2 linked regions of the Homo sapiens genome follow. Changing the gene in region 1 together with any one later gene gives a genetic interaction. Each region holds a gene or a part of one and is shown on either strand. Other genes may lie near its edges.

Evidence for each region. A genetic interaction does not mean that the proteins touch.
Region 2: of BMP7 (region 1) and SMAD1, changing one suppresses a phenotype caused by changing the other (phenotypic suppression), as found in Homo sapiens cells (one study listed by BioGRID).

The regions. Positions count from the first base shown.
Region 1 is NC_000020.11:57,170,448-57,172,641, reverse strand, and holds part of BMP7 (bone morphogenetic protein 7 preproprotein), read left to right. Parts: intron 1-1,533; coding exon 1,534-1,683; 3' UTR 1,684-2,194. UniProt on the Homo sapiens protein: Growth factor of the TGF-beta superfamily that plays important role in various biological processes, including embryogenesis, hematopoiesis, neurogenesis and skeletal morphogenesis.
Region 2 is NC_000004.12:145,484,853-145,488,352, reverse strand, and holds part of SMAD1 (mothers against decapentaplegic homolog 1), read right to left. Parts: intron 1-3,500. UniProt on the Homo sapiens protein: Transcriptional modulator that plays a role in various cellular processes, including embryonic development, cell differentiation, and tissue homeostasis.

The DNA.
Region 1 (2,194 bases):
TAGTGATAAGAGCTGTAGGGATTTTGTTCTTTTGCTTAGAATCCAAGGTTCAAGGACCTTGGTTATGTAGCTCCCTGTCATGAACATCATCTGAGCCTTTCCTGCCTACTGATCATCCACCCTGCCTTGAATGCTTCTAGTGACAGAGAGCTCACTACCAGGACTACTCCCTCCTTTCATTTAGTAATCTGCCTCCTTCTTTTCTTGTCCCTGTCCTGTGTGTTAAGTCCTGGAGAAAAATCTCATCTATCCCTTTCATTTGATTCTGCTCTTTGAGGGCAGGGGTTTTTGTTTCTTTGTTTGTTTTTTTAAGTGTTGGTTTTCCAAAGCCCTTGCTCCCCTCCTCAATTGTAAACTTCAAAGCCCTACTTGGGATTGAAGGTCCTTAGGCTGGAAACAGAAGAGTCCTCCCCAACCTGTTCCCTGGCCTGGATGTGCTGTGCTGTGCCAGTATCCCCTGGAAGGTGCCAGGCATGTCTCCCCGGCTGCCAGGGGACACATCTCTATCCTTCTCCAACCCCTGCCTTCATGGCCCATGGAACAGGAGTGCCATCGCCCTGTGTGCACCTACTTCCATCAGTATTTCACCAGAGATCTGCAGGATCAAAGTGAATTCTCCAGGGATTGTGAAATGATGCGATTGTGGTCATGTTTAAAAGGGGGCAACTGTCTTCTAGAGAGTCCTGATGAAATGCTTCCAGAGGAAATGAGCTGATGGCTGGAATTTGCTTTAAAATCATTCAAGGTGGAGCAGGTGGGGAAGGGTATGGATGTGTAAGAGTTTGAAATTGTCCATCATAAAATGTGTAAAAAGCATGCTGGCCTATGTCAGCAGTCACAGCCTGGAGGCTGTGAACAGAGTGCCAGTCACTGATGCTCTTGCCTGGCACCTACAGTTGCTGGAAACCCAGAAGTTTCACGTTGAAAACAACAGGACAGTGGAATCTCTGGCCTGTCTTGAACACGTGGCAGATCTGCTAACACTGATCTTGGTTGGCTGCCGTCAGCTTAGGTTGAGTGGCGGCCTCTTCCCTTAGTTTGCCTTAGTCCCCACTATTCCCTATTGTCTTACCTCGGTCTATTTTGCTTATCAGTGGCACTCACGTGGCACTCATAGGCATTTGAGTCTATGTGTCCCTGTCCCACATCCTCTGTAAGGTGCAGAGAAGTCCATGAGCAAGATGGAGCACTTCTAGTGGGTCCAAGTCAGGGACACTATTCAGCAATCTACAGTGCACAGGGCAGTTCCCCAACAGAGAATTACCTGGTCCTGAATGTCGGATCTGGCCCCTTCCTTCCCCACTGTATAATGTGAAAACCTCTATGCTTTGGTTCCCTTGTCTGCAAAACAGGGATAATCCCAGAACTGAGTTGTCCATGTAAAGTGCTTAGAACAGGGAGTGCTTGGCTTGGGGAGTGTCACCTGCAGTCATTCATTATGCCCAGACAGGATGTTTCTTTATAGAAACGTGGAGGCCAGTTAGAACGACTCACCGCTTCTCACCACTGCCCATGTTTTGGTGTGTGTTTCAGGTCCACTTCATCAACCCGGAAACGGTGCCCAAGCCCTGCTGTGCGCCCACGCAGCTCAATGCCATCTCCGTCCTCTACTTCGATGACAGCTCCAACGTCATCCTGAAGAAATACAGAAACATGGTGGTCCGGGCCTGTGGCTGCCACTAGCTCCTCCGAGAATTCAGACCCTTTGGGGCCAAGTTTTTCTGGATCCTCCATTGCTCGCCTTGGCCAGGAACCAGCAGACCAACTGCCTTTTGTGAGACCTTCCCCTCCCTATCCCCAACTTTAAAGGTGTGAGAGTATTAGGAAACATGAGCAGCATATGGCTTTTGATCAGTTTTTCAGTGGCAGCATCCAATGAACAAGATCCTACAAGCTGTGCAGGCAAAACCTAGCAGGAAAAAAAAACAACGCATAAAGAAAAATGGCCGGGCCAGGTCATTGGCTGGGAAGTCTCAGCCATGCACGGACTCGTTTCCAGAGGTAATTATGAGCGCCTACCAGCCAGGCCACCCAGCCGTGGGAGGAAGGGGGCGTGGCAAGGGGTGGGCACATTGGTGTCTGTGCGAAAGGAAAATTGACCCGGAAGTTCCTGTAATAAATGTCACAATAAAACGAATGAATGAAAATGGTTAGGACGTTACAGATATATTTTCCTAAACAATTTATCCCCATT
Region 2 (3,500 bases), on another chromosome or scaffold:
TTAAAACTTATGTATAAAAATATATTCTGAATCAACAGAGAGACCCCTCTCTCCTCCTCTTCCCAAACAGGACCTAGTGAATATTCATTTACATCCTGAACTCAAAAGCATATACATGCATAATTAACAATTGTATGTTCTTTCTTCAGATCCAGGCTTATTGTCTCAAAAAAAATATTTGTTAAGAAACCAATCTATACTGCAAACCTAGGTTCTTATTAAAAAAAAAAAAGTTCCTTTTTCAAACACTAAGAACATAAAAGAGATTTGGGAAAATCACCAGGTAAGGACTTCCTCACACCTTAGAGAATTTAATGCTTTATTTTCAAGAGAGAGTCTTCTCTAAAGTTCAGATTTTAGCTTATAACAAAAATTATAAAGATGCTGAACTGTTCAAATACTGTAGTTCCCAGTACCTTACTAAAACTCTGATGTAGTCACTGGAGTGAAACTGCTTATGAAACTTTTGGCTTTTCTTTTCTGAAAGATAGTTTCCTTTATGCAAATGAATGTTCTAGAGAAGCCGCTCATTTCTGCAAGTCAGCCCGCAATAGCTACAGACATTACTGTTTTGCATATAGGACTAGCCCTGCACCTCTAAAACTGACACCATCTTAATAACGCAGAGCAAGATGAGTATTTTAATTTAGATTTTAAGCAATTACATTAATACTATTTGGCTCTGCCTTTTTCTTCTCTTTCCTTTTCTTTTTAAAGGTGGCTACAGCAGAGTGATGAAAATACTTCAGGTATTTTTGCTGCAAATCAGATGCCAGATCAACAGATTAGACTGAATATTTGTACTACCAGATAACAGCAGGAAAGGAAAATAAAGGGTCAAGAGGTTTCAGATTGGGGCAAAGAGGACATGCCCCTATTTGTTATCAAAGTATGTCCTAAAATCTTGGTACCAAAGAGTAAAACCACATATAGAAGTAGCAGAACATTTCATCAACCTCAAAGACATGCTATGACTTAAAACCGATTTTTTCCACTTTTTTATATTTAAATTATCCTTTTTCTCCTCAGACCTGTCCAATTCTCTCCCTAGGACTCCCTAGCTCCCTAAATACCCCAAACTTTAGCTTTTGGTTAGGAATGTGATTTGTTTTCGAGAGTCAAGAGGAGATTCGTATATTTTGCTAGATGTCAGAGTTGCCTGCTTTAATTTGAACTTTGTGCAATCTTGGATCTCCCATTTTCTAATAAGGTCTCATTGATTAAATTAGATATAGGGCTTTTCTTTTCCATCTCCAGAATGAAAAAGAATCAATTTTAATATGTAGAAAATAAGCATTTCTCTCTGGTTGTCAGATTTGATTCCTACTTAGCTCAAACAATGTTAGGTATAAAAAGTTGCTAACAGGCCAAAAAATTCTTTCCTCCCTTCCCTAAATTACACTGGATATGCTTACACCAAAGCCTCAGAAATATCGTGAGCGTGGTAGGGAGAAAAAAAACCTGAAAACAAAAGGGCACTTAATGCCAAGAGGAGTCCAGATCTTGGCTTTCCCTTTTCCAATCACTAGACAGGTAACTTTGGATGTCAGTTACCTTCTCTGGACTTCAGACTGTTCACCTTGATATGAACCAACCAGATTAGAAAATCTTTAAAGCAACTTTTAATACTAAGTATCTCTATTCTCTGTAAAGGAAATTACAAATCTTAATGTTTATGAAAGCACTTGGCAGTCCCATGGACATATTTCACCCGAAAGACCATGAGATTTGGATAGTTAAGTGTACACATTAACTCACCATGACATATAAGCATTTTGGGATAGGAAGGTGGGAATAAGAAGATACAAGATCCATAGTTTCATCGATTCTTAAACAGCCCTGACCTTGTAAAACATTTACAAAAATAGATGTTGAATGTTTTTTTAAAAATCCCCAATGAATTTGCAATTACTATTCTTACAGTGTTTAACAGCTCAGGGAAGATAGACTAATTTTGGTAAGACAGACAAACTGAATTACTACAACTTTCCTCCTAACTTAATATCAGTTTGTGATTATGTAAGAAAATGCAAGAGGAAAGTGACAAGAATTATGCAGAAAAGCAGAGATAAAACTAATTTGGCTTTGAAATGCATTATTTTCATGCCAGATTTATTCTTCAAATTATGTGCTGCTTAGATGAGCATTATTTTTCCTTTCTTAAACACTTACAAAAGAACGACAGAAGATAGCCCAGAAAGGCACAATAGAAGGTAAATTTATTTAAAGACCTACAAAATACACAAGCCAAGTCATGTCTATACTGGCATAGTAAAGCACAGCAGAACAATGATGATTTGGGTCTTCTGAACGAAAGACCAAAAAACATAGTTAAGATGGAGTTTCTAGAGTTGGACTGCCTCGATCATATCCCAGGTAAGATTAGAAATCATAATCATTCACTGTACCTCCTGAAGCAAGATACTGAATCATTCTGTCCTCAGTTTCTTTACCTGTAAAATGTGACAACAATAGTACTTATGGAAGTTTTGAGGCTTAAATGAGATATGGGTATTATAAACAATGCCTGGCATACATACAGTAAAAATTCAGAAAAAAGGGTTAGCTACAATTATTTCTTCTCTCTAAGGCTCTAAACCAAATTAGAATCGATGACACTAATAATAAATAAGATCTACAGAAAAGTCAAACTCCTTTTATCCAGCAGCTTCAACTGTCCCTTCCAAATTGTGTTTTATTTTAAAAAGAACAGCTAGTTAGTGATAAAATTAGTTTATATATGTCTTTCCATCTTTGACTCCACAAATCATTAGTAGAGTTAACAAGTGAGAAGAGGTAAAGGTCCTGGGGCAGCAATGGCTAGCAGAACCTCCTGTGATGATGGAACTATTCTATATACACGCTGTCCAGTATGGCAGCCACTAACCACAAGCAGCTACTAAGCACTTGAAATGCGGCTACTGCTGAGAAAACGAATTTTTATTTAATTTTAATTTAAACTTAAATAGCTATAAGTAGCCGAGTGCAGTGGCTCACACCTGTAACCCCAACACTTTGGGAGGCCGAGGCGGGAGAACAGCTTGAGCCCAGGAGTTCAAGACCAGCCTGGGCAACATGACGAAACCCTGTCTCTACAAGAAATACAAAAACAAATTAGTCAGGCAGACATGGTGGCAGTGCCTGTAGTCCCAGCAACTTGGGAGGCTGAAGTGGGAGGACTGCCTGGGCCTGGGAGGTCGAGGCTGCAGTGAGCCATGATCGTGCCACTGCACTCCAGCCTGGGTAACACAGAGAGACCCTGTCTCAAAAAAATAGAATAATAAAATTTCAAAAAAAGCTACGTGTGACTATGGCTAGGATAGCAGAGCCCTAGATAATCCATAAGCTAAATAAGGATTGTCAGAAACTTAAGCAAAATAAGGATCTTCTTTTCCTGAACTGTTTATATGTTCAATTCAAATATCTTTGTTTCTGGTATAGGCCTGGTAAGTTTGACTAGTTAAAGAAATAACATGTCAGTAGATATCAATACAGTGAAA